Linked DNA regions of Homo sapiens. The protein of the gene in region 2 purifies or fractionates together with the protein of the main gene of each other region. This does not show direct contact. Each region holds a gene or a part of one and is shown on either strand. Other genes may lie near its edges.

Evidence for each region.
Region 1: the proteins of IGF2BP1 (region 2) and ZNF326 purify together in Homo sapiens (affinity purification with mass spectrometry; one large-scale study listed by BioGRID and IntAct). This does not show direct contact.
Region 3: the proteins of IGF2BP1 (region 2) and CEP63 purify together in Homo sapiens (co-immunoprecipitation; one large-scale study listed by IntAct). This does not show direct contact.
Region 4: the proteins of IGF2BP1 (region 2) and TDRKH purify together in Homo sapiens (co-immunoprecipitation; one large-scale study listed by IntAct). This does not show direct contact.
Region 5: the proteins of IGF2BP1 (region 2) and MKRN1 purify together in Homo sapiens (affinity purification with western blotting; 2 studies listed by BioGRID, with this or other methods). This does not show direct contact.
Region 6: the proteins of IGF2BP1 (region 2) and QKI purify together in Homo sapiens (co-immunoprecipitation; 2 studies listed by BioGRID and IntAct, with this or other methods). This does not show direct contact.
Region 7: the proteins of IGF2BP1 (region 2) and PLEKHA7 purify together in Homo sapiens (co-immunoprecipitation; one large-scale study listed by IntAct). This does not show direct contact.

What each region holds. Positions count from the first base shown.
Region 1 is NC_000001.11:90,005,110-90,008,609, forward strand, and holds part of ZNF326 (DBIRD complex subunit ZNF326), read left to right. Parts: intron 1-23; coding exon 24-135; coding exon of another isoform or gene 136-139; exon of another isoform or gene 140-1,336; intron 1,337-2,235; coding exon 2,236-2,641; intron 2,642-3,500. UniProt on the Homo sapiens protein: Core component of the DBIRD complex, a multiprotein complex that acts at the interface between core mRNP particles and RNA polymerase II (RNAPII) and integrates transcript elongation with the regulation of alternative splicing: the DBIRD complex affects local transcript elongation rates and alternative splicing of a large set of exons embedded in (A + T)-rich DNA regions.
Region 2 is NC_000017.11:49,052,885-49,056,384, forward strand, and holds the end of IGF2BP1 (insulin-like growth factor 2 mRNA-binding protein 1), read left to right. Parts: 3' UTR 1-3,261; downstream 3,262-3,500. UniProt on the Homo sapiens protein: RNA-binding factor that recruits target transcripts to cytoplasmic protein-RNA complexes (mRNPs). This transcript 'caging' into mRNPs allows mRNA transport and transient storage.
Region 3 is NC_000003.12:134,545,057-134,548,556, forward strand, and holds part of CEP63 (centrosomal protein of 63 kDa), read left to right. Parts: intron 1-529; coding exon 530-763; intron 764-1,092; coding exon 1,093-1,232; intron 1,233-2,278; coding exon 2,279-2,416; intron 2,417-3,500. UniProt on the Homo sapiens protein: Required for normal spindle assembly.
Region 4 is NC_000001.11:151,784,001-151,787,500, reverse strand, and holds part of TDRKH (tudor and KH domain-containing protein), read left to right. Parts: intron 1-3,500. UniProt on the Homo sapiens protein: Participates in the primary piRNA biogenesis pathway and is required during spermatogenesis to repress transposable elements and prevent their mobilization, which is essential for the germline integrity.
Region 5 is NC_000007.14:140,473,006-140,476,505, forward strand, and holds part of MKRN1 (E3 ubiquitin-protein ligase makorin-1), read right to left. Parts: intron 1,485-3,500; exon of another isoform or gene 1,376-1,484; intron 823-1,375; exon of another isoform or gene 770-822; intron 1-769. UniProt on the Homo sapiens protein: E3 ubiquitin ligase catalyzing the covalent attachment of ubiquitin moieties onto substrate proteins. These substrates include FILIP1, p53/TP53, CDKN1A and TERT.
Region 6 is NC_000006.12:163,571,718-163,575,217, forward strand, and holds part of QKI (KH domain-containing RNA-binding protein QKI), read left to right. Parts: 3' UTR 1-3,500. UniProt on the Homo sapiens protein: RNA reader protein, which recognizes and binds specific RNAs, thereby regulating RNA metabolic processes, such as pre-mRNA splicing, circular RNA (circRNA) formation, mRNA export, mRNA stability and/or translation.
Region 7 is NC_000011.10:17,007,915-17,011,414, reverse strand, and holds part of PLEKHA7 (pleckstrin homology domain-containing family A member 7), read left to right. Parts: intron 1-3,500. UniProt on the Homo sapiens protein: Required for zonula adherens biogenesis and maintenance. Acts via its interaction with CAMSAP3, which anchors microtubules at their minus-ends to zonula adherens, leading to the recruitment of KIFC3 kinesin to the junctional site.

The DNA.
Region 1 (3,500 bases), on a different chromosome or scaffold from region 2:
TTTTTCTTTTTAAACTCTTATAGGGATGGATCGTGACTATGGCCATGGATCCTATGGGGGTCAGAGATCCATGGATTCCTACCTAAACCAGTCATATGGCATGGACAATCACAGTGGTGGTGGTGGGGGTAGCAGGTAAATTGCTTAATCATTTGGCCAAATAATTAGACAACTATAAGATTTTGGATATATTATTTTAAGTACTCTTTAGGCATGTTATGATACTTGAACTTCACTGTTTGCTATTGAATCATCACCTTAAATATTTAAAGGTGTTAATTAATGGGTATAAAATTTAAATCAGTATTACTGGCAGACGTTATTTTAGGAAAACACCAGATAACTATATCATGTCAATATAATAGAGTAAGATACACTTTTTAGCAGTGAACTTTTAAAAAATTCTTTTACTTTTAACTTCTTGTCAATCAAAGTATCCTGAAAAATGATATAAAAATGTTATTGAAAATATTATTTATGAAGCTTTTTCTTAATAATTAAAAAAAATCTTTTCTAATGTGGGGTGCTATGTAAATTAGCAAAGCAGTCTAACTAGAATGGATTTTACTGAACCAGTCTAACATTTACTTTCCAAGAAACATTCAGGACATATTCCTTTAATTCTAATTTTAAAGGAAGAGCATATTGCAATAATAAAAATATTTTTAAAATTATGTTCAGGTTATTTATTGACAGGTACTACTTACACCAAAGCACTTGTGCTCTAGGCTAGAAGCATTGTATTAAAGCCATGAATACTATACCTTTGACTAGTCGAGATTGTATTTATATTTTCCTGTTACTACTGTATAAAGCTTAAACCTACTTAAACAACTACAAGCTTTAAGGTTGACCATATTTCAGGAGAAGGGGTGTCTACTTTTTGAGGCACAAAGGTTCCTGCTGAATATAAGTAAAACTAGTTAGTAGACATGTGAAACAGTCATCCTTCTGCATAAATTGAAGGATCCGGATTCCTTAATGATGGACTGAATGATGCTTACTTTCCTTCTTTCTGCTTCCAGTGTACCACTATGGTTTATAGTAAAGAAAAATTAAGAAAGTGAACAGTTGCAACTATTTTGCTTATGTGATAGATGTTTTGAAAAATGTAGTTGGAAATAGGAATAATTTTTATATGGTTACTAGGATTCAGAAGTAAATCTATTTAGTGATCTGTAAATAATTGAAGTAATGTAACACTTAATGTTTTAATATGTCAGTTATTGCCCTTTTATATTGTGAATGTAATGTGCATAAGCTATATCCGTAGATGTTATTGTTTTATCTCATGTGTAATTGTGGGCCTTTATAAAATTGTGTTGTAAGATATCAAGCAACTTTTGTAATCCATGCTTTGGGTTTGTGAGAAGGAAGATGATTTATTTCTTCTGTTAACTCTCTTAAAACCTCGAGGAGACTGTGTGCTCCCTTTTTTAGGGTAGTTTTATGTGATAATTTCCTGAAGGAAATAATTTTGCAAATAATTGAATATATTATAAGATGTATTCTTTCTCATCTGCCTTGAAAATTCATATGCAGAGGGTATATGTTGGTGATCTTTTATGTTTTATCTGTTTATCCTTCTAGATTTGTTAGATTTTCTAGTCTACAAGTAAAAAGTGATTGAGGATTGATTAATTGACCTTGGCTGAAGTTTGGCAGATTGTTAAATTTTTATAACCAGAGATAATTCCCCAAATTTTGACTCCTACAGACACAATGAAGCAGTTTGTGATATAGATTATTGGGAGTGCAAAAGGATCTCTCTGTGTCACAAATAACCTACATCTAAGTAGACTTCAATTTGTGTCCCTATTGAAAGCCAAAATATTGTAAATGTTTTGTAATTTTTAATATTAGGGATAGATTCAAAAAAGTTTGAATAGTTTGTGAACTTTAGCAAATGACCTTTTCCAAGACTAGGGCTGGGCTTAAATAATGACAGACAAATCTTTTCTTCTTCATAAAATAGAAAAGCTGCTAAGAAGCAGATTTTAAAGCTAAGTTTTACTAAACTCAATTCATATTTATAATCTGACTCAGATAGCTTTCTATCTGGTCTCACGTTGAACTGCCCAGCCCTAATCAAATGTGAACAAAAGTAGAACTGTGCAAACCAGTATGGTATAAATGAATTTTAGTTGATAAATGTCATCTGATAATTTGTCTTTTGAATTGTCTAACATTAGTAAGCTTACTTTTGTTTTTTCCCTCACTGTGCAACTTTTCCAGGTTTGGACCTTATGAGTCTTACGACTCCAGGTCTTCTCTGGGTGGGCGAGATCTGTACAGATCTGGCTATGGTTTTAATGAACCCGAACAAAGCCGCTTCGGAGGTAGTTATGGTGGTCGATTTGAGAGCTCCTACCGGAATAGCCTTGACTCTTTCGGAGGTAGAAACCAGGGCGGGTCTAGCTGGGAAGCACCTTACTCCCGTTCAAAATTGAGGCCTGGGTTTATGGAGGACAGAGGAAGAGAGAATTACTCTTCCTACAGCAGTTTTTCTTCACCCCATATGAAGCCTGCACCTGTAGGCTCTCGGGGGAGAGGAACGCCTGCTTATCCTGAAAGTACGTTTGGAAGCAGAAACTATGATGCTTTTGGAGGACCATCAACAGGCAGAGGCCGAGGCCGAGGAGTAAGTACAACAGAATCTTTTCAGATTCTTTTCACTAGTCACTCTTTTAAACCCTTTCAAGACCATCGTTTTCAACTAGAATAAACACTGTTCATCCCGGTGTATTTTGAAGCAAAAGCTGAGTCATAAACATAATTTTTAGGTTGACTGTAAAAGTTTTTCTAGCACCTCAGAAAATAAGTGGCAGTTTGAGATGATCATAAAGTTGTGCCAAATCTCCCTTTATTAAAAAGGTGAGGCTACTGGTTTGGTCTAAAAGGGGTTAAAAGGAGTTGCATTTTCCTTGTAAACACTAGCAGTTTTGCTGGTGGAATAGTTTGTGGATTATTGTGAAAGGTCACTGAACCCTTTTTGAGTTTTTGAGTAGGTTAAAGGTGCAATGTATGATAAAATGTTTATACTTTGTGGCTAAACTCTAGCAAGTAGAATTTCTTCAAAGCTCCATGTTTCACATTAAACACAGGAGACTAAAAGTTGATGATAGATCAGGATAGCTTAGCCATGTTTATGTGGTGAAGAAGTTGATGTGTATAATAGATTGTACAATGATTTGTGGTCAGTGTAATTTTGCTAACTCACGCTTACAATATGTCCAGTTGCTGGTTGTTTTATTTTCCCTCGTGTTACTAGTTTTACTCTTGAGAAATAATTTCCACCTGTACAGATATGTTTATGGTTTCTTCTTAGGAAGTAATATTTTGTAAATTATTGCTTAAATGAGTAAATATACTAGTCCACAGTTGTTTAAGTTTAGGGTACATAGTGTAAACATTATGCTTTATGTTCTTAGGTCACTTGATTGACATGAAAATTTACCTAGTAAGTGTATGCAGATTGTGGGGTTATTATATAGTTTGAT
Region 2 (3,500 bases):
ATATTTTTAAATTCTTTGAAACACATAACCAAAATGGTTTGATTCACTGACTGACTTTGAAGCTGCATCTGCCAGTTACACCCCAAATGGCTTTAATCCCCTCTCGGGTCTGGTTGCCTTTTGCAGTTTGGGTTGTGGACTCAGCTCCTGTGAGGGGTCTGGTTAGGAGAGAGCCATTTTTAAGGACAGGGAGTTTTATAGCCCTTTTCTACTTTCCTCCCCTCCTCCCAGTCCTTATCAATCTTTTTTCCTTTTTCCTGACCCCCTCCTTCTGGAGGCAGTTGGGAGCTATCCTTGTTTATGCCTCACTATTGGCAGAAAAGACCCCATTTAAAACCCAGAGAACACTGGAGGGGGATGCTCTAGTTGGTTCTGTGTCCATTTTCCTCTGTGCCAAAGACAGACAGACAGAGGCTGAGAGAGGCTGTTCCTGAATCAAAGCAATAGCCAGCTTTCGACACATACCTGGCTGTCTGAGGAGGAAGGCCTCCTGGAAACTGGGAGCTAAGGGCGAGGCCCTTCCCTTCAGAGGCTCCTGGGGGATTAGGGTGTGGTGTTTGCCAAGCCAAGGGGTAGGGAGCCGAGAAATTGGTCTGTCGGCTCCTGGTTGCACTTTGGGGAAGGAGAGGAAGTTTGGGGCTCCAGGTAGCTCCCTGTTGTGGGACTGCTCTGTCCCCTGCCCCTACTGCAGAGATAGCACTGCCGAGTTCCCTTCAGGCCTGGCAGACGGGCAGTGAGGAGGGGCCTCAGTTAGCTCTCAAGGGTGCCTTCCCCTCCTCCCAACCCAGACATACCCTCTGCCAAACTGGGAACCAGCAGTGCTAGTAACTACCTCACAGAGCCCCAGAGGGCCTGCTTGAGCCTTCTTGCTCCACAGGAGAAGCTGGTGCCTCTAGGCAACCCCTTCCTCCCACCTCTCATCAGGGGTGGGGGTTCTCCTTTCTTTCCCCTGAAGTGTTTATGGGGAGATCCTAGTGGCTTTGCCATTCAAACCACTCGACTGTTTGCCTGTTTCTTGAAAACCAGTAGAAGGGAAACAGCACAGCCTGTCACAGTAATTGCAGGAAGATTGAAGAAAAATCCTCATCAATGCCAGGGGACATAAAAGCCATTTCCCTTCCAAATACTCGACAATTTAGATGCAGAACATTTCTCTGTATTCAGACTTAGAGTAACACCAGCTGAAAACTGCAGTTTCTTTCCTTTGGATACATAAGGCTTCTCTATCGGGGTACGGGACAGGGAGGAGGCCTCATGTCTGAAGGGGGATTTAGGGGCGAGAGCCCCAGCCCTGACCCTCGGTCCTGTGCACCGCTTTGGGGCACAGTCTGATGGCGCCTTTGCTGGCGCCTTAGTATGGTTGACTCCGGATGGACAAAAGAAAAAAAATTTTTTTTCTTGAATGAAATAGCAGGAAGCTCCTCGGGAGCATGTGTTTTGATTAACCGCAGGTGATGGATGCTACGAGTATAAATGGATTAACTACCTCAATCCTTACAGTAAGATTGGAACTAAGGGCAGGGACTCATGCATAAGGGTATGAATCCCAGCCAGGACAAGTGAGTTGAGGCTTGTGCCACAAAAGGTTTGTCCTTGGGGAACAGGCAGGCCTGCCAGGATCCCCCCCATATCGATTGGGCTGGGAGGGCTGGCCATGAGGTCCCCACTTTCTGCTTTCCTTGCCCATGTGTCACCCCTTTGGCCTCCAGCTTGTCCCTCTCTCACTTTCTATAGCTTTGTTGGACCAGATGGTGAGGAAAGGAATGGCCTCTTCCCTTCTAGAGGGGGCTGGCTGGAGTGAGACCTGGGGCTTGGCCTGGAACCCACCACACAGCCCCAAAGTCAGGAAGCCTGGGGAAACCAGAGCTGAGACCTCTTCAACAGGGTTTCTTTGAGATCCTACACCTCCATTGGGCCCTTTTTCAGTCTTCAATGGGGGCCCAGTTGGCTCTAGAAGGAGAAGAGGTGAAGCAGGATCCTTTGCCCTGGGGGAGTCTGAGGGCGCGGTCCTTGGACTCATTCAGGCCGTCTTTGTAGTTGGGGGAGTTCCACTGGGCGATCCCAGCCCCTCCCCACCCACCCTCTAATGGACCTCCTCATAGAAGCCCCATTTCACTTTTGTTTTATCTACCTCTTAGCAAAACAATAGATAAATTAGGTAGTGGCAGCTCCACTTGCTTAGGTTAGGGGGGGAAAAAGATTTCTTTTTCCAAAGGAAAAAAATATTACCTTGAGAATACTTTCCAAAAAATAAAATTAAAAAAAAAAAAACCAAAAAAAAAAATTTTTTTTTAAAAGGGAGACATTTTCCAGTGACCACTGGATTGTTTTAATTTCCCAAGCTTTTTTTTCCCCCATAAATAAGTTTCACTCTTTGGCGATTTTCTTCACTTGTTTAAGATAACGTGCTAGCTATTCCAACAGGTAACAGCTTTCACAGTCTGCCCCTGGCCTGTCTCACCCCATCCCCCACCCTATTCCTGCCAGTGAGTCCTTCCTGTGCTTCTCTCCCTTCTCCCCTCCCAGCCAGCTGACTTCAGTCACCCCTGTCCCCCCTCCCCTGCCAATAAGCTCCCCCAGGAATAAAGGCTTTGTTTTGGGGATGCTTAAATCTTGACTGGCACTTCCCGGCTGTGGGGGCTGGGGAGCCACTTGTAACATTTCTGTGCAGATTTTATGTTAGCCACTGCTATGTAAAAGCACGTTCAAAATGAATTTCAGCAGATTATGTGTTACCATAATGAATAAACGTCCTCTATCACCATTTGGAGTCTCCCTTTTCTCCAGGATCTTGATCCTGGTCCCCAAAACCAGAGTGAATCAAAAGAGCTTCCTCCCCTGAGGCAAAGTGGATTTGTAAGCAGTTCTGAAACATCACTTACTCAGAAGAGGGAACGATGTATTTTGATGAGTGCAAATTGGGAAGAGCTGGAGGCCTACTGCTTGGGACAGTTTTTTTTTTTTTTTTTTTTTTAAATATGAGTGCTAGCTTATTCTGTAATTGCGGCAACTTTGAAAATTGTATTTTACTGGAAATCTGCCAGCCATCACCACCCGATTTTGATTGTATCCTTCCTCCCATCCTTTAATCTGTTCATTGCTTTGGGGGAGGTGGGGCAGCTGGCTCACACGTTGGAGTTTGTTCTTTGATGGATGAACGAACACTCCAGTTTTCTTTCCCGTGAAGGTTGTTTCAGCCACAAACCACTTCATTTTGCTGTTTCAATTTCAAAATAAAAGGAAACTTATATTGAAAGACAAGTATGTCTGTGTCTCAGGGTTTTTGGGTCTGGGAGCTGAGATGCTCAGCCTCAGCATGGGAGCCCTGGTTCTCAGGGACCTGAGTCATCCAAATGCAAAGTAGGCATTTTTCTTAAATGTACAGAGGAGTGGTTTTTAAATGGTGCCCTGCTCTTAATTAGCTTTGCATATTGGGAGGGGGGCAGGTCAGGTGTTTGGAATGAGGACTCCAGCATTAAAGAAGATGTTGGGACATCACT
Region 3 (3,500 bases), on a different chromosome or scaffold from region 2:
AATCTCGGCTCACTGCAACCTCCAACTCCCTGGTTCAAGTGATTCTCCTGCCTCAGCCTCCCGATCCCGAGTAGCTGGGATTACAGGCACGCGCCACCACGCCCAGCTAATTTTTGTATTTTTAGTAGAGACGGGTTTCACCATGTTGGCAAGGATGGTCTCAATCTCCTGACCTCATGATCCGCCCACCTCAGCCTCTCAAAGTGCGGGATTACAGGCGTGATCCACTGCACCCGGCCAATTTTTGTATTTTTTATAAAGACAGGGTTTCGCCATGTTTCCAGGCTGATCTCGAACTCCTGAGCTCAAGCGATCTGCCTGCCTCAGCCTCCCATAGTGTTAGGATTACAGGCGTGAGCCACCACTCCCAGCCTCTCAATTCTTTCTTACCCCTTCGCAATATATATATATATATTTTAGTGAGCCAATGCTTTATGTTTTTATGGAAATAATAGTTTCATTTTAGTCTTATTCATTGATTATTTTATCATTTCCCTTTTACCTATTGATTGATAGTCTGTGTTTCTAGGCTCAGCTTGTCAATCGGAAACAGAAATTAGAGTCTGTGGAACTTTCTAGCCAATCAGAAATTCAACACTTAAGCAGTAAACTGGAGCGGGCTAATGACACTATCTGTGCCAATGAGTTGGAAATAGAGCGCCTCACCATGAGGGTCAATGACTTGGTTGGAACCAGTATGACTGTCCTACAGGAGCAGCAGCAAAAAGAAGAAAAATTGAGGGAATCTGAAAAACTATTAGAGGTATGTTTTAAAATCACTATAATTGGGGGAAGTGTGTGTATGAGTATTTTAAGAGAGTGTTATTAAGCTAGAACTAGGTTCTACAATCCATACTTTCTTCCCTACTTTATAAATGATGGATCAGATATTGATAGTTTTACTAATATTGTGACTTTATTACAATATTTACAATATTGTAATATTGTTACGTAACTTATAGTCTGACTTCCTGGCTTCTCGTGAAATAGAAAAATTGTAATAATAGCTGGCTTAGAAATTTCTGAGTATTTTGCAGGTTCTGCAGGAATTAAAAAGAAGGAAAATTATAATCATATTTGACTTTTTTGCAGGCTCTGCAGGAAGAAAAGAGAGAATTGAAGGCAGCTCTTCAGTCTCAAGAAAATCTCATACATGAGGCCAGAATACAAAAGGAGAAGTTACAAGAAAAAGTAAAGGCAACTAACACTCAACATGCTGTAGAAGCTATAAGGTAAATTTAATCTTAAATATTATTCATCTTAGCCACTTAATGACTAGGTATTAAGCACTAGGCTTATTTTTATTTTTATTTTTATTTTATTTTCAGATAGTCTCCTGTTGCCCAGACTGGAGTGCAGTGGTGCAATCTCAGCTCACTGCAACCTCAACCTCCGAGGTTCAAGCCATTCTCCAGGCTCAGCCTCCCAAGTAGCTGGGACTACAGGTGCATGCTACCACACCTGGCTAGTTTTTTGTATTTTTAGAGACGGGCATTCATCATGTTGGCTAGGCCGGTCTTAAATTCCTAACCTCAGGTGATCTGCCCACCTCAGCCTCCCAAAGTGCTGGGATTACAGGTGTGAGCTGCCACGCCCATCCAAGCACTAGTTTTCATATTGCATATTCATAATTTTATGTTTGATCATATTGTGGATTTTCTTAATTGGCTTTAACTTCTGAGTTAGGTTTTTAAAGTGTTATAAAATTTTGTGTGGTTAATTTTCTTCTGCCACCAGTTAGGGTCCCTAACAGAGACTCTCATGTTTAGAAAGTTAGAAACCAAGGTCAGTTTGCATGCTTGGTGAAAATCCAAATGTGCAGGGAATTGTCATCCATGTCTCCTGGAGGCCTCACTTTGTTGGTGGAATAAGTTGTGATTAGTAGCTGCTTATCATTAATAGCAGCCAGCCATTGGGCTAGCCCTCTTGCTTGATTTAAGTCTGATGCACACTTTTATTTTTGCCAGAATTCTCCTGTAACTTTTCAGTTTTTTTGGTACAGGGTTTCAAGTGTCACTGAAGTGATTTTGCCATTTTGTCTTTTTCCCTTGAAAAAAGGCCAAATCCCAGTTAAGAAGGGAGTAAATTGCTACTTTTTGAAGTATCAGCATCTCTTGACTCTTTCTTTCCTCTCCCAATATTCTTTTTATAAAGCAGGAGACAAACTTGAAGAGTTCCAAAGAGGTTACCAAAAATGATGGGGAAACACAGACTAGATGAGCATTATTTTTGTTTGCAGAGATAAAGGCGTTAACAATCATCCTATGTCTTTCCATAGGCCACGGGAAGAATCTCTGGCAGAAAAGAAGTACACCTCTCAAGGGCAGGGGGACTTAGACAGTGTGCTCTCCCAGTTGAATTTTACCCATACTAGTGAGGACCTTCTGCAGGCAGAGGTGACTTGTCTTGAAGGCAGGTACATAATTATACACACATTTCAAAAATTTCAAGTTGTTAAAATGAATTTTTGATCATCATATTGTAAATGAATGTAATAGTCATAGTAAAAAAAATAAGATTTTTTTCTAGTATCCACAAATGGCCTAAGTTCTTATTTCTTTTTTTTTTTTTTTGAGACGGAGTCCGCTCTGTCACCCAGACTGGAGTGCAATGGCACAATCTCAGCTCACTGCAACCTCCGCCTCCCGGTTCAATTGATTCTTCTGCCCCAGCCTCCTGAGTAGCTGAGATTACAGGCGTGCACCACCATGCCTGGCTAATTTTTATATTTTTGTAGAGACGGTGTTTCACCATGTTGGCCAGGCTGGTCTTGAACTCCTGACCTCAGGTGATCCACCTGCCTTGGCCTCCCAAAGTGCTGGGATTACAGGCATGAGTCACCGCACCCTGCCCTAAGTTCTTATTTCATTGAGAAGACAGAAGCAATTAAAGGAGAACCTCTTAATCTTTCTGTCATCAAATCTACCAGTCTGCCCATACCTGTGCCTTTCTGCACTTCTAAGACCAACCACTCCACTTGTGTCCTTTTTCTGTAGTTATATCCTTTCTCTTCTGCATCATCAAGTTCTTTCTGTCTGCTGAATCTATCCACTGGTATAAAATACGCTGTAACATCACCCATCTGGGGGAAAAACCATCCCTTAATCCTATGTCTCCGTCAAGTTATTTCCACATTTCTGTACTTCTCTTTAAGACCAAATTCTTCAAAAGAGTTGTCTATACTGACTCTACTTCTTTACCTTTCACCTGTTTAGCAGCCCTTCACTTAGGTTTTCCTCCTTGCCACCTCAGAAGCAGGGTAGGAAGGGGTAACAGTTGACACATGGTGATCCTTTTTGTTCTGCTGTGGTGTTGTTACTTCCTTGGGTGTTAATTGAATCCTGACTAATGCTATACCATACCCACCTAAACACTTGTCATTGTCGTACTTATAGAATTTTTTTTGGTTTTTCATAACCTCTCAACTTTTTGATTGGGAAGAGTGTGATATCTTGTTTTAAACACATGAATCATGATCATTTGTACACTGACATTTTCTG
Region 4 (3,500 bases), on a different chromosome or scaffold from region 2:
TCACGCCTGTAATCCCAGCACTTTGGGAGGCCGAGGTGGGCGGATCATGAGGTCAGCAGTTCGAGACCATCCTGGCCAATATGGTGAAACCCTGTCTCTACTAAAAATACATAAATTAGCTGGGCATGGTGGCAGGTGCCTGTCGTCCCAGCTACTCATTAGGCTGAGGCAGAAGAATCGCTTGAACCCGGGAGGCAGAGGTTGCAGTGAGCTGAGATCGTGCCACTGCACTCCAGCCTGGGCAACAGAGTGAGACTCCGTCTCAAAAAATATATATATCTAAAGTAATCAGGGGACAAAAGAAGTCAAATTCTTTCTAGACACCAAGAATAAACCATCTCAATGTAGGAAAGTAGCAGTTTGGGAGGTGTGTATTCAAGAATTATTTAAGTCAAAAATCTCCTTTATGAAACAACTTGTTTCCTTTCCTTTGGTATATACAACGATGCTTATATAATACCATCCAAACTTTCAGGATGGTGAAAGCTTTTATTTGCAGTGTATTTAAAAAAAGAGAAGCTTATCCAATGACTTGGGAAAAGAACCTCATAAATGAAAACAAACAGCCTACATTAACCTCAACCCTTTCTGTCCTACATTCTAAAAAGGTCGGGAGAGAACAGTATTCCCTCAGATTGATAGTCTCTAAAAATGATATACTGAATTCACTGAGTAACTAATGACCCAAAATAGACGACACCCTTGAAAAGAGGTACCCATCCCCCACCTCGGGTAGTAAAAGGCCGTTTTATTATTTGCTCAGGCTTTTGAGTCCGGGCAAGAAGGTGGATTAAATTTGTTTAAAACCAGGATATAGAAAAAATAGATTTGGCAAACTTCTGGTAGTTCTCTGAAGAACTTTATTCAGTTCTGTTGATCAGTAAAGCTGTGAGGCCAGATGCAAATTCTGGTCATCTGTATGACAGTGTAGTAGTCTACCCTTCTCCGTGGTTTTGCTTTCACTTACCCATAGTCAATCCTGGTCCAAAAAGATTAAATGGGAAGTTCCATACGTAAACAATTCTTAAGTTTTAAATTGTGCACCATTCTGACTAGCATGGTGAAATCTCCATCCTGGCCCAGACGAGAATCCTGCCTTTGTCCAGCATATCCATGCTGTATATGCTACCCGCCTCTTAGTCACTTAGTAGCCATCTTGGTTATCAGATTGAAAAAACCTATAGTTTTCAGTACTCCAAGGCATCCACTGGGGTTCTTGGAACATATTCCTCGAGGATAAGAGAGGATGACTGTTGTAAGAAATCTACCTCCAGCCTCCCTTACCTGACTATATCTGCTCCTCAGTGAGATTTCGGTGCTAGATGTTCTCCTTTCTCTCTTTACTCTTCCAGATTGACTGTGCTTTCCCTGAAAGCCTAAGTTTTATTCCACAGTAGGTTTTGTATTAATGAGTATGTTTTTAGCCTTACCAGGATATAGCCAGTTTTTCCCCCCAGGGTGAAATACATTTTTGTTTATTATAATTATTTGGGTTGAATTTTTGTACCTGGAGGTAAATTATGGCATAAGTTACATTTACTCATTTTTAAGCAAATCTTATTTAAAGCCAGCTTGCTTTGTTCTACTAGATTGTAATATCTGGAAATACAGATATTTAGTTTTCAGTTTTTTATCACCTATCTTTAGTTTTTTAGTCTTCAGTGTTTTTTTAACCACCTACAGTACTTTCTACCAGTATTAATTTTGAATTGAATATGTTGATCAAAATAAAGAATAAAAATACAGGTGCTGTTACCCTAAGAGCTTAGGTAAAAGGAAGAGTGGGGAAGGATTTCTAAAATCACTTTACAAGGTTTTTTACAAGCAAGAATAACCCAGACTCTGGGTTAGAGATTAGATAACCTCTTCAAGCATGGGTACTCTTCTATGGGATTAATATTTCCTGCCTTACAGGGTTATATGACTGTAAAATAAAATTATGTAATTTGCCTGGCATAGTAGCTACTCAACACATTATCTCTTCATTTTTGTGTCTTTAGTGCCACAGTAGCATCTAGCACATAGTACTTACTCCAGCTCTTGTGTTGAGAATAAACTGAATGGACAATGGCAAAGGCAGGAACGTAATTAAGCAATGCAGTAATCTAGGGAAAAGATAATGGTGTTTTAGAGCAGGGTCATAGAACTGCAAAGAGAAAAAGTGGTCAGATTCTGGATGATTTGAAGGTAGAGCAAATAAGATTTGTTGACAGGCTAGGTGTGCAGTGTGAGAGAGAGGATGACTAAGGGAGTAAGAGAATGCAGTCGAGGCAGAGCACAGTGGTTCACACCTGTAATCTCAGCACTTTGGAAGGCTGAGGTTGGTGGATCACTTGAGCCCAGGAGTTTGAGACCAGCCTGGGCAACATGGTGAAACCCTTTCTCTACAAAAAATACAAAAATTAGCCGGGCATGGTGGCATGCACCTGTAGTCTCAGCTACTGGGAGGCTGAGAGATGGGAGGATTGCTTGAGTCCAGAGGTTGTGGCTGCAGTGAGCCATGGTTGCGCCACTGCACTCCAGCCTGGCAACAGAGAAAGACCTTGTCTCAAAAAAAAAAAAAAAAACGAATTGCCATTTGCTGAGATGGCAAAGATTATGGGAAGGGGGTGAATCAGGAGCTCAGTGTTAAGTTTGAGATGTCTATTAGACATCAAATGGAGATCCATGTAGGCAGTTGAGAAAGGTCCTAAATGGATCTATTAATTTGGAAGTTATCAGCATCTAGATAGGAGTTAAAGCCAGTCCGTGAATGAGACTTGAGATCACCAAGAAAGTGAGGTAGAACAGAGAAGAGGGCGAAGGACAGATCCCTGAGGCACTCCAGTGTTTAGAGGTTAGAAAAATGTGAAGAAACCAGCAACTGGGAGACTGATGGAATAGCCAGAAAGGAAAGAGGAAAACCAGGAGGGTGTGCTATGGAGAATGTGTTTCAGAGAAGAGGGAATCATCAGCTGTGCCAAATACTGTGGGGACATCTGGTAAGATGAAAACTGAGAATCGATCTTTGGATTGAGCAGTATGAAATCATTGGTGACTCTGATGTGAGCAGTTAGAGTGGATTTAAGAAGAGAACTTGAGGACAGATATATTGACACTCGAGTTTTCCTTTAAAAGGAAGAAAAGAAATGGGAAGTAGTTGAAGTGAAATCCAGGAAGGGTTTTCTTTAAGAACAGAGAATGTTTGTCTGCTGATGGGACTATCCAGTAGAGAGGAAAGAAAACGTTAATCATGTAGTAGAAGCAAGGAGAACTTGTGGAGCAGTGCTTTTATGAAAGACTTCAGTGCTAGGAGCAGAGACAGTTCATCTGTGGTCACAGGAGAGAACAGCAAGCATTTAGGCACAGGTGGAGGAAGGTGGGCAAATGTGTAGAAGCTTGTGGATATTTTCTCTGAATGCTCTCCTTTTTTAGTGAAATAGCAAGGACCTCAGTTGAGAGAGGTTGGAGGAGGCAGCACGAGACGTTTGAGTGGAGAGGGAGGCTGAGAAACTATGTGG
Region 5 (3,500 bases), on a different chromosome or scaffold from region 2:
ACTCGGGAGGCTGAGGCAGGGATTGCAGTGAGCCGAGATCGTGCCATTGAGCCACTGCGCTCCAGCCTGGACAACAGAGAGACTCCATCTCAAAAAGAAAAAGAAAAAGAAAAAGAAAAAAAGATATAGTCTACGTCAAAGAATTTCTCCTCCAAACAAAAACCAATGAATATAAGTATATGTCTTGTTTTTAAATGATACCACCAAAAAAAAAAAAAAAAACATCATCCAGATTCACCCCAAGTTGAGTTTGCCTTCGGTGAAAACCTGGGCCATATATTATTTCTGAAGTTCCTTCCACTGTGCAGACTCTGTCTCCATGAGACACTGTGCAGTAAAAGACAAAATTTACTAGAATCCCCCTACTGCTGTGCCTCTTAGAAACCTAATAGTGGCCCCCAACATAGAGAACAAGAAACTGCCAAGTTACCCTGTAAGGGTACAAGAGAACCAAACAGCACCCTCAGAGTATCTCTAGGCATCTTAACAACCTCTTTAGGAATTTCTACAAATTATAGAATAGATAAGGCATTTAATCAATTCATCTGCAGTGACACTTCTTACTTTGATATTTAACTTTTAATGAGTGAGTATACCATTTATCAAACTAGATTATAAATTCCTGATGGGTAAAGACTGGTTTATTCCCCTTTTTATCTCCAACTATCTGTGCACATAATATATACTTGTTAGAAAAAGGTAGAAAGCCGGGTTCGGTGGCTCATGCCTGTAATCCCAGCACTTTGGGAGGCCAAGGCGGGTGGATTACCTGAGGTTGGGAGTTTGAGACCAGCCTGACCAACATGGTGAAAGCGGTACCTACTAAAAATACAAAAATTAGCCGAGTGTGATGGTACAAGCCTGTAATCCCAGCTACTCTGGAGGCTGAGAGAGGAAAATCGCTGGAACCCAGGAGATGGCGATTGCACCGAGCCAAGATTGTATCACTGCACTCTAGCCTGGGCAACAACAGCGAAACTCCGTCTCAAAAAAAAAAAAAAAAGAAAGAAAGAAAGAAAGAAAGAAAGAAAGAAAGAAAGAAAGAAAGAAAGAAAGAAAGAATAAAAGACTGTAGGGTGGGCCCGGTGGCTCACACCTACAATCCCAGCACTTTGGGAGGCAGAGGCAGGTGGATCACCTGAGGTCAGGTGTTCAAAACCAGCATGGCCAACATGGTGAAACCCACTATCTACCAAAAATACAAAAATTAGGCCAGGTGCGGTGGCTCACACCTGTAATCCCAGCACTTTGGGAGGCTGAGGCAGGTGGATCATGAGGTCAGGAGCTCAAGACCATCCTGGCTAACACAGTGAAACCCTGTTTCTACTAAAAATACAAAAAAAACAAACAATTAGCCAGGCATGGTGGCACACACCTGTAGTCCCAGCTACTTGGGAGGCTGAGGCAGAATTGCTTGAACTCGCAGTGGGTTGGGGGGGGCCCAGAGGTTGCAGTGAACCAGGATCACGCCACTGAGACTCCGTCTCAAAAAAAAAATAAATAAATAAAAGGCTGTAGAAGACAGCTAGATGTGATGGTGAATCATGGTAGCGATAGCAAATTAATTTTTCTTTCCCAGTTGCATAATCTTTTTAATACCATTTAATATTTATTACTTATTTCCTCTCACAACCACTATGTAGTTTCCAAGTAATAAATTTCACTATGGACGTCACAGCACTCAGATAAAGAATTTCTGAAGGATTTCCTTCTTTCTTTTTTTTTTTTTTTGAGACGAAATCTCACTCTGTCACCCAGGCTGGAGTGCAGTGGTGCAATCTTGGCTCACTGCAGCCTCTGCCTCTTGGGATCAAGTGATTCTCCCACCTCAGCCTCCAGAGTGGCTGGGATTACAGGTGCCCGCCACCACGCCCAGCTAATTTTTGTATTTTTAGTAGAGAACGGGTTTCGTCATGTTGGCCAGGCTGGTCTCGAACTCCTGACCTCAAGTGATCCACCTGCCTTGGCCTCCCAAAGTACTAGAATTACAGGGGTGAGACACCACGCCCAGCTGATCTTTAAGTTACGTTAACCACATTTTTAAAAACTTTTGAGGCCAGGTACGGGGGCTCATGCCTGTAATCCCAGGACTTCGGGAGGCCAAGGTGGGTGGATCACCTGAGGTCAGGAGTTCAAGACCAGCCTGGGCAACATGGTGAAACCCCATCTCTACTAAACGTACAAATAATTAGCCGAGTGTGATGGCACGTGCCTGTAATCCCAGCTTCTCGGAAGGCTGAGGCACCAGAATTCCTTGAACCCAGGAGGCAGAGGTTGTAGTGAGCCGAGATCGTGCCACTGCACTCCAGCTTGGGCGACACAGACTCCATCTCAGAAAACAAACAAACAAACAAACAAAACACAACTTTCAAGGCCAAGCATGGTGGCTCACACCTGTAATCCCAGCACTTTAGGAGGCCGAGGCGGGTGAAACACTTGAGCTTAGGAGTTCAAGACCAGCCTAGGCAACAGGGTGAAACCCTGTCTCTATCAAAAATGCAAAAAAAAATTAGCCTGGGGTGGTGGCACGTGCCTGTAATTCCAGCTACTGGGGAGGTTCAAGCAGGAGGATTGCTTGAGCCTGGGAGGTGGAGGCTGCAATGAGCCAAGACACTGCCACTGCATTCCAGCCTAGGGGACAGAGCGAGACCCTATCTCAAAAAATACAAATAAATACAAATAAAAATCAAGAAAAGAGTTTTTTGAAAAATTAAAAATTAAACACTTGTTTTTTTGTGTATTATTTCAACTACCAGAACACTTATCTGCCATTATAGAAGCACTCTAATAAAGAGGGGTCTAAATTCAAATTACAACTTCTCTTTAAGTATTAACTGTTCTAACCTCACACACTCAAGGTAACTCAAGGTAGCAGATGCAATGAGCATTTCTGTTTCTTAGTATTGCTCTAATAAAAGATATGAAAAACAGCCTGGTGGTGGCAGCATAACACAGTTTCTGAGGAAAGGTATAAAACACAATGAAAACCCCAGGAGAAACATTAGAAAAAATGTAACCAGTAGGAAAATACAGGTGATTCCGAGCAATTAAAAACATTCTAATCAAAACTTCTAAGTGAAGAAAATAGCTTTAGTCAAATTCCTAGATACAGGAGTGATGTGCTATAGGGAGAAATGAGCACAAACACTAAAACACACCTCTACCTGATTCTTTAGGTGATGTTTACCTAGCAAACATATTGAAAATGTTTATTTATAATACAGTACATACATCTGCACTCTCTTGAACACCTAATATTGTGTCTCCCATTGCTGGCGTGCAATGTTTACTTACTGAATGATTGAATAAGGTAGTTCCAGAAAAAATATACATGTGGCCGGGCGTAATCCCACCTACTCAGGAGGCTGAGGCAGGAGAATCGCTTGAACCCAGGAGGCAGAGGTTGCAGTGAGCTGAGATCTCGCCACTGCACTCCAGCCTGGGCGACAGAGCGACACTCCATCTCAAAAAAAAAAAAAAAAAAGGAAGATACACATGTG
Region 6 (3,500 bases), on a different chromosome or scaffold from region 2:
ATAAAAAAAAAGAAAAAGAACAAAGAAACCCTTTATTTCATTAAATGATTTTTTCTGGTGGTTGTCAAGAAACAAAAGACCAAAAGAGCCTTTTTGTCTTTCTTTTTTATTTTTTAAGTATTGGAATAAGTCTAAAGAAAAGAAAGTGCCTTATTTTCCTTCATGGTCATTCAGTCAAGTGTCTCATAAAGATCAGCTCCTCCCTCAGAATACAAGTTAATGCATGTTACTCAGTCGCCCAGTATGTGAAAGAAGATATGAGGGAGACAAATGAGTTGATAGTTTGAATTATAGGATTTTTGCCACGTTACCTTGATGCAAATTTGCCAAATCTGATACTGTGAAAAGATTTGATAACTTTTCTAATGCCTGACTAGTAAGTTTTAAAACATCATTCTTTAAAAGAATAGTTTAATACTTTTGGTTATTCCAATCTTCAATGTTAACCCAAAGGATTCTGAGATAAAAATTATGTGTCATCTAAACTTCAGTTTACAGACAAAATTAGAGCTTTGTTTTATTTGGAGAAGGGGGATGCATTCATTTGATTTTGTTTTTTGTTTTTAATTAATTGAATATAATAGGATACCTAGCAAATGTTTTCACAAAAGTGAATCTTTGTGATTTTCATTCTAGAAAACAATGTTTTAAATCACCCAAATTTAATCACATGTCTTTATATCATACCAGATAACTGGTGTAGTGTATCCTTTTACTGTTTCAATAACCTCTGCCTCCCCCACCCCTTAACTTTAAAAGAATGTGAAAAACTAGCATCATAGTGCATATAAATACTCAACCACATTTCAGCTTAAGCTTCTAATTTCTCAAGAAGTTGAAACAGTTAGTTATGTAGTTGAAGCAATTTGTGTGCAAAGCCTACATCTAAACACTTGAGTGAATAATCATTAACTGCTCAGTACCAGACGTGGCAAATCTCAAGTGACAGTGGACCCCCCCCCCCGCCCAGCTTATCAACTCGTCCCCTCTTCCACACCTTCCCAGCATCACAGTCAGAGGTCAGCAGGAAGCTGAGTCATTACCTTCTTGGTGACCTCCCCCACCATCTTGTCTCACTTGGAAACCGTTGTCAGTTTATTTACTATGCAATAGACATTCATTGTTTTGTATCCAGCTAGCTTTGGTTTAATATGCCACTGCTTTGTCTTTCTGTTACACATACAGTTTTGATTTATTTACAATATATGCTGTGCCATTTTGATTTTTATATTGTTTGGTTGGTTGAATAAATTTGCGACACTCAAACACTTGAGGTGATAGTTGTTAAAAACAATACCAGTATTTGATCCAGTTTCATCTCAACTATGTTATACCTGGACATTTTAGATGTTTATCAAAGGTCTTTTATGGGGAAGAAAGTAAATGTATGAAATAATAAATGTGTGACATTTATAGGGAATGTTGGCTCTGAACAAACTTTTGAAAACTTGGTTGACAAAATTTTGGATCAACTGAAAAAAGCATGACTTTTGAAATCTCTGAATGCCTTGGTTCTCAGTATTATCATTCTTTATTGAATTTATTTCTTATTAAAATATGTAGTTTTTAAGACTTTTTTTCTGACAGTATTATGTAATTTTTTAGCGTGGGTAGATGGGAGTGTCGCTTGTATGTTATCGTACAGCTGACATGTATTTTTGTCTATTCTTTATTATCTTAGTTTCATGCTATGTATGTACCATAACCAACCTATTGCCTATGAGAAACATGTAAGATAATGTATTTACAGCCATTGTTACAAGTTTATAATGTATTTTTCTATCTTGTTTTATATGTATGTTATATAACATTCAAAAAGAATTTTTTTCTTGATTGAGAAAAGGATACAAAATGCAAAATCCACAATTTTGATAACTGAAAATTGCCAATTGTTTTGCAGTACTTTATTATATTGGGTGTCTTGTCTTTTTTGGGCTTTTAGTTAGCTAATGAATGAATACATTAGACACTTTTGGGTTTTAGTTGGGATTTTACATAGCTTGCATTTTAATTCTTTGGTTCTTTGCTGTTTCTATTAACCCACAGCATTATTTTAATAAATGTTATAATACCAACCTACTAACTCTGGACTTTGTCTGTTTATTAACCTTTATATGTTTAATTAAAATAAACAAATAAAGACAAAAGAATGTAAAGTCTTGAGTTACTGGACTAACCCTGAAGAACGTGACCACAGATAACATAGTGTGACTTGTTTTTATGTTGTTTGTCAGCTGACAGTTTTGCACACTACTGTTAAAATGGCTTTGGTTATTCTGGTCTTTTAGCTTGGGGGCCGGGGCGGGTGTGGGTGTAGGTGCAGTAGAGATGGGAACAAAGTAGCCTTTGTTTGAGGCATTCTTCTCTTGCCACTTGCCTTTCAGCATCTGCATTACTAATTCCACACCTTATTTTTCCTTCTCCAAAATAATCACTGTCTGCTCACAGCATCGAGTAAAAAGATACATTGTCATGGTATATACCTGGAGAAACCAGTTTGATTCTTTGTTGAACCATTTCTTTTAATTTCTGTAAATAAGTAATTTTATGGTCACATTGTAAAGCAGAGAAACTGTTGATATTTTACCTTTATTTAGATTTTTGTTTTAACTTGACCTTTTTCCTTTGGAAAGCGTTGAACTTGTTTAGCTAACTACTCCTATTAGGGGAGCTTAACTTGGGTAAAGTCAAAGGCCCACTGGCTGTTTCTCATGGTGGCCTGAAGCCCCGCTGCTTTCCAGTGAGGAAAAGAACCCTCAGCACGTTACTGAGCTTTCCTCAGGTATTTTTTTCTCTGTCACCTACTTTACAAATACAGTCAGACTAAAACATTAAACAAGAAGTTTAAGGGGGAATAACATTGGGATTTGAAAAGTTGTATGTGATTAATTTCTTGCATGCAAATCAATTTAAGATTTCTTAAATATCTTCATGCTTTTCTTGGCTGGAACTTGGGTAAATTAACCTGTAATTATGAATTATTTAGTTTAACTCAAGGTGCATTTTTATTTCACAGATTGATACTTGCTTTTTTCTGTGAAACAGTTCTCCTAGATACCAAAATCCTCAGGATGAATTTTTGCATTTGTAAATAACAATTTATCTTTGTAAATTACATTTTATTTATTTAGAGTTCTAAAATTGAGGGCTGAAATGAATGACATGTAATAGAAGACAAAACTGTACCAATACGCTGTTAACCAATCAGACTGTCCAGGTATTCTCATTTCATAAATATGTATACACACATATAAATACACAGAGTAGTGTTAGCTGATGTGAGTGATAACAGCGAATCACCATTGAGATGGTCATTTGGATCATGTAAACAAACCGTGTCATGTCTCTGATGGGAGCGGTGGGTAGTGTACTGTTAGGTGGACAGGTCTTTTAACATGCTACTATTTGTAAAAGTTTCCGTTGCCATAACAGTTCATGTAGTAGTCTGTGAAAATTCGAAGCTGTCTGTCAAGCTGCTAATATACAAGTTGTCATGGTAC
Region 7 (3,500 bases), on a different chromosome or scaffold from region 2:
GAGGGTTCTTTTTTTTGGTGGGAGATTGTACAGCATGTTTGTTTTGATGGGAATGATCCCACTGAGAGGAAGAAGTCGATGCTGCAGTAAAGAGACGGGGCAGTTGCTGGAGCAGTGTTTCTAAGAAGGTGAGAGGGATGGGATCCATGGCCTGCATCTCACTAGCGTCACCCAGGGGCAGGGCCCATCATTCATTTGGCGGGAGGAAGGGCTGCAAGTGTCCCAAAGTACCAGGTGCAGCCTTGGGCTGGGTGTGTGAGGCCGCGTGTGGGACTCTGGAGGCTGGAGCACAGCCTTCCACACCTTTGCTGACTCTTCCATGGTAACTTGTCTGTGAGGTCCCTAATGATTTTCCTACAGTGAGCTCCTGTGCCCCCAGGGCCTTGGCTGACTCCTCCCAGGCCTAGAAAAAGCAATGTGTGACAGTGTTCCCTACCCTCAAAGGCAGGGCCCTGTGGCAGGTGATTGTACTTCTGACGTCCTTCTGTGACAATTTTTTGAGAGACTTAAGGGTTTTGGGAGTAATTGTTCTCTCCCTCATCCCCCGCCCCCCACATGAAAAATGTTTTACTGTTGTCTGATTTCTTAGCTTTGCCGTGAGCATTTCTGAATGTTTGATTTTTGTGTTGAGGGCAGGAGCCTCCTCTAATCTGGCTCATAAAGTGAGAGCGACAAAGCATTGACATGGCTGATTTTATTTTTCCTAATGGCTCCTTGCACAGGAAAGTTGTGTGAGGTTTTACAGGATGTATTCAGTTGCTCCTCATATTTAGCAGATTAAAACATTTTAATTTTTGAAAAAATTTTAAGAAACAGAATCTTCCTCTGTCTCCTAGTCTGGAGTGCAGTGGTGCAATCATAGCTCACTGCAGCCTTGAACTCCTGGGGCCAAGTGATCCTCTCACTTCAGCCTCCCAAGTAGCTGGAACTACAAATGCAGGCCACCATGCCTGGCCAGCAAATGTTTTAATACTCTCCAGAGTCCATTTCTTTTCTTTCTTTTCTTTTTCTTTCTTTTTTTTTTTAAAGACAGCTTTGCTCTGTCGCCCAGGCTGGAGTGCAGTGGCACGATCTCAGCTCACTGCAACCTCTGCCTCTTGGGTTCAAGTGATTCTCATGCCTCGGCCACCCCCTAAGTAGCTGGGACTACAGGTGTGCACAACCATGACTGGCTAATTTTTGCATTTTTAGTAGAGACAGGGTTTCACCATGTTGGCCAGGCTGGTCTCAAACTCCTGACCTGAAGTGATCCGCCTGCCTCAGCCTCCCAAAGTGCTCGGATTACAGGCATGAGCCACTGTGCCTGGCCTCGGAGTCCATTTCTTGAAGCAGAAAAGCTTGAGGTTAGGCAGGTGAATTTTTGTTTTGATTTCTGCACTTTTTGTTCAATTTTGCATTAATGAGGGACAAAATGTATAAGAAATCTACTGTTGGTTCTCCCAGTTCTAGACTAAGTGATGTTGATAACCCCTTTAAAAAGATTTTTTGGCTGGGTATAGTGGCTCATGCCTGCAATTCCACACTTTGGGAGGCGGAGGCGAGGGGATCACTTGAGGCCAGGAGTTCAAGATCAGCCTGGGCAACACGGAGAGGCCTCATCTGTACAAAAAATGAAAAAATTAATGGTGGTATGCTCCTGTAATCCTAGCAACTTGAGAGGCTTAAGTGTGAGGATTGCTTGAGCCCAGGAGTCTGAGTTTACCATGAGCTATGATTGTGATACTGTACTCCAGCCTGGATGACAGAGTGAGACCCTGTCTGTAAATAAATAAATAAATAAATAAATAAAACGAAGACTTTTTGTACTCTAGCACTTCTCTACTATGAATCCCTTAGCTGGGTAGCAAGGTATAATAGTAATTGTGATAATAGTGTCATTAACAGAAGTAGCAATAATAGTAGTAATAATTATATAACAGCCTAATCTTTTTGGGTCTTTGAAAAATGCTAGGAACTGTTCTGTAACTGTCATTGATTTAATTCTCACAATAGTTTGATGAGGTAGGAACTACTACTAGTTTCGTTTTACAGACATAGAATCTTGCCGTAATCCTGGACATTCCTATAGCAGATGGTTTTTTTTCTTGTGTCTTTTCTTATTTGATCCTTATAGCAGCCCCTGGAGGCAGGAGGGGAAGAATCATCCCCATTCTTCAGATGATGAAACTCAGGTCCATGAAGGTTCAATGATTTTGCTGAAGTGTTAGAGCTGGGACTGGAACATAGGTCTTTGGTCCCTCATGTGATAGCCACAGTAGTAGTGGTAGCTCCTACCCCAGGCCATGCATCTTGAAGGAGATGAATGCCCATATGCCATTGCTCTGAGTTAGGCTTCCCCAAGGCTTATGGGGCCAGACTCCATCTTTGCTTTTTCTGGGGATTGAGGTACTTTGGAAGGGCAGTACCCCCTGGTCTCCTATGTTGATTAGGGGTGGTACATGTCTCTGATTAGTAAGAAATTGAAGACATTGATTATTAGTAAATACAATTTGGCAGACACAGCTTTTTCAAACATGGGACCTATGAGGGAGAAGTTTCTAGAAGAGGCCATGGGAGTTAGAGTATTACACTGGGCTGCTCTTCAGGGGTTTCATGGAACCTTGTGAATTCCGTTCCCCCTACAGCAGGCATTAAATAGGTCATGAGGCAATGAGGAGATGGCAGAGAAGAGGGGCTCAGCCACCTTGCCTGTGCCAAGGCTGTTCCTTGAAGGCAGGCATCTTATTCCCCACTTCTGTGACTTAGGCACCCAGCCCAGGGCTGGGAGCTGAGTAGGCACTTGGCATCTCTTGAGGAATCAGTGTTTTAAAGAGACCCAATGAGTTTTCTAGGTATTCCAGGTCTTGGAAAACTCCTTACTGGGAAGGAGATTGGGGTGGAGGAGAATAAGCAAGGTGAGAGAAGCTCAACAGCCAGGAACAGGCCTGTCAAGGCTGGTGCCTAGACCCAGGCTTCTTGGATACAGTCGCTTGCTGTTGAGAACAATGCTCAAAGCAGGAAGCTGGCTGGTGGAGGCTCAAACGGCCTCCTCTGCGTCTTCATTTCATATCCTTATTGCTCTGCATCTGGGACTGGGATACCTGTTGGCTACTGGACTAGGCTGTCTTCCTTCCCTGGCTGCTGGGCCCTTGGCATCATCTGTGACTTGGCACAAGGGTGCTGGCAGGAACCAGCTGATTGCACAAGACCCTTTCTAGCTTCAGGTTTCTCAGTTTTAGCTTTGGGGTTGTGTGGAGCCACCCTGTGTAGGTACTTTCTTCTTGTGGGTGCCTGTCCCCAAGTGAGGACAGCTAGACTCTGGGAAAGACATTTCTGAGGCTTGGAGTAAGGCTAACTTTCCCCTCCCCTAGGACCTGAAGCAGGTCCTAGGGGCAGGACTGGCTACATAATTTGCAGAGCCTCAGTGTAAAATGAAAATGCAAGGCTCCTTATTGAAAAAGAAGGAAAAAGTATTAGCTTGGTGCAAATGTAATTGCGGTTAGTGCTATTACTTTTAATGG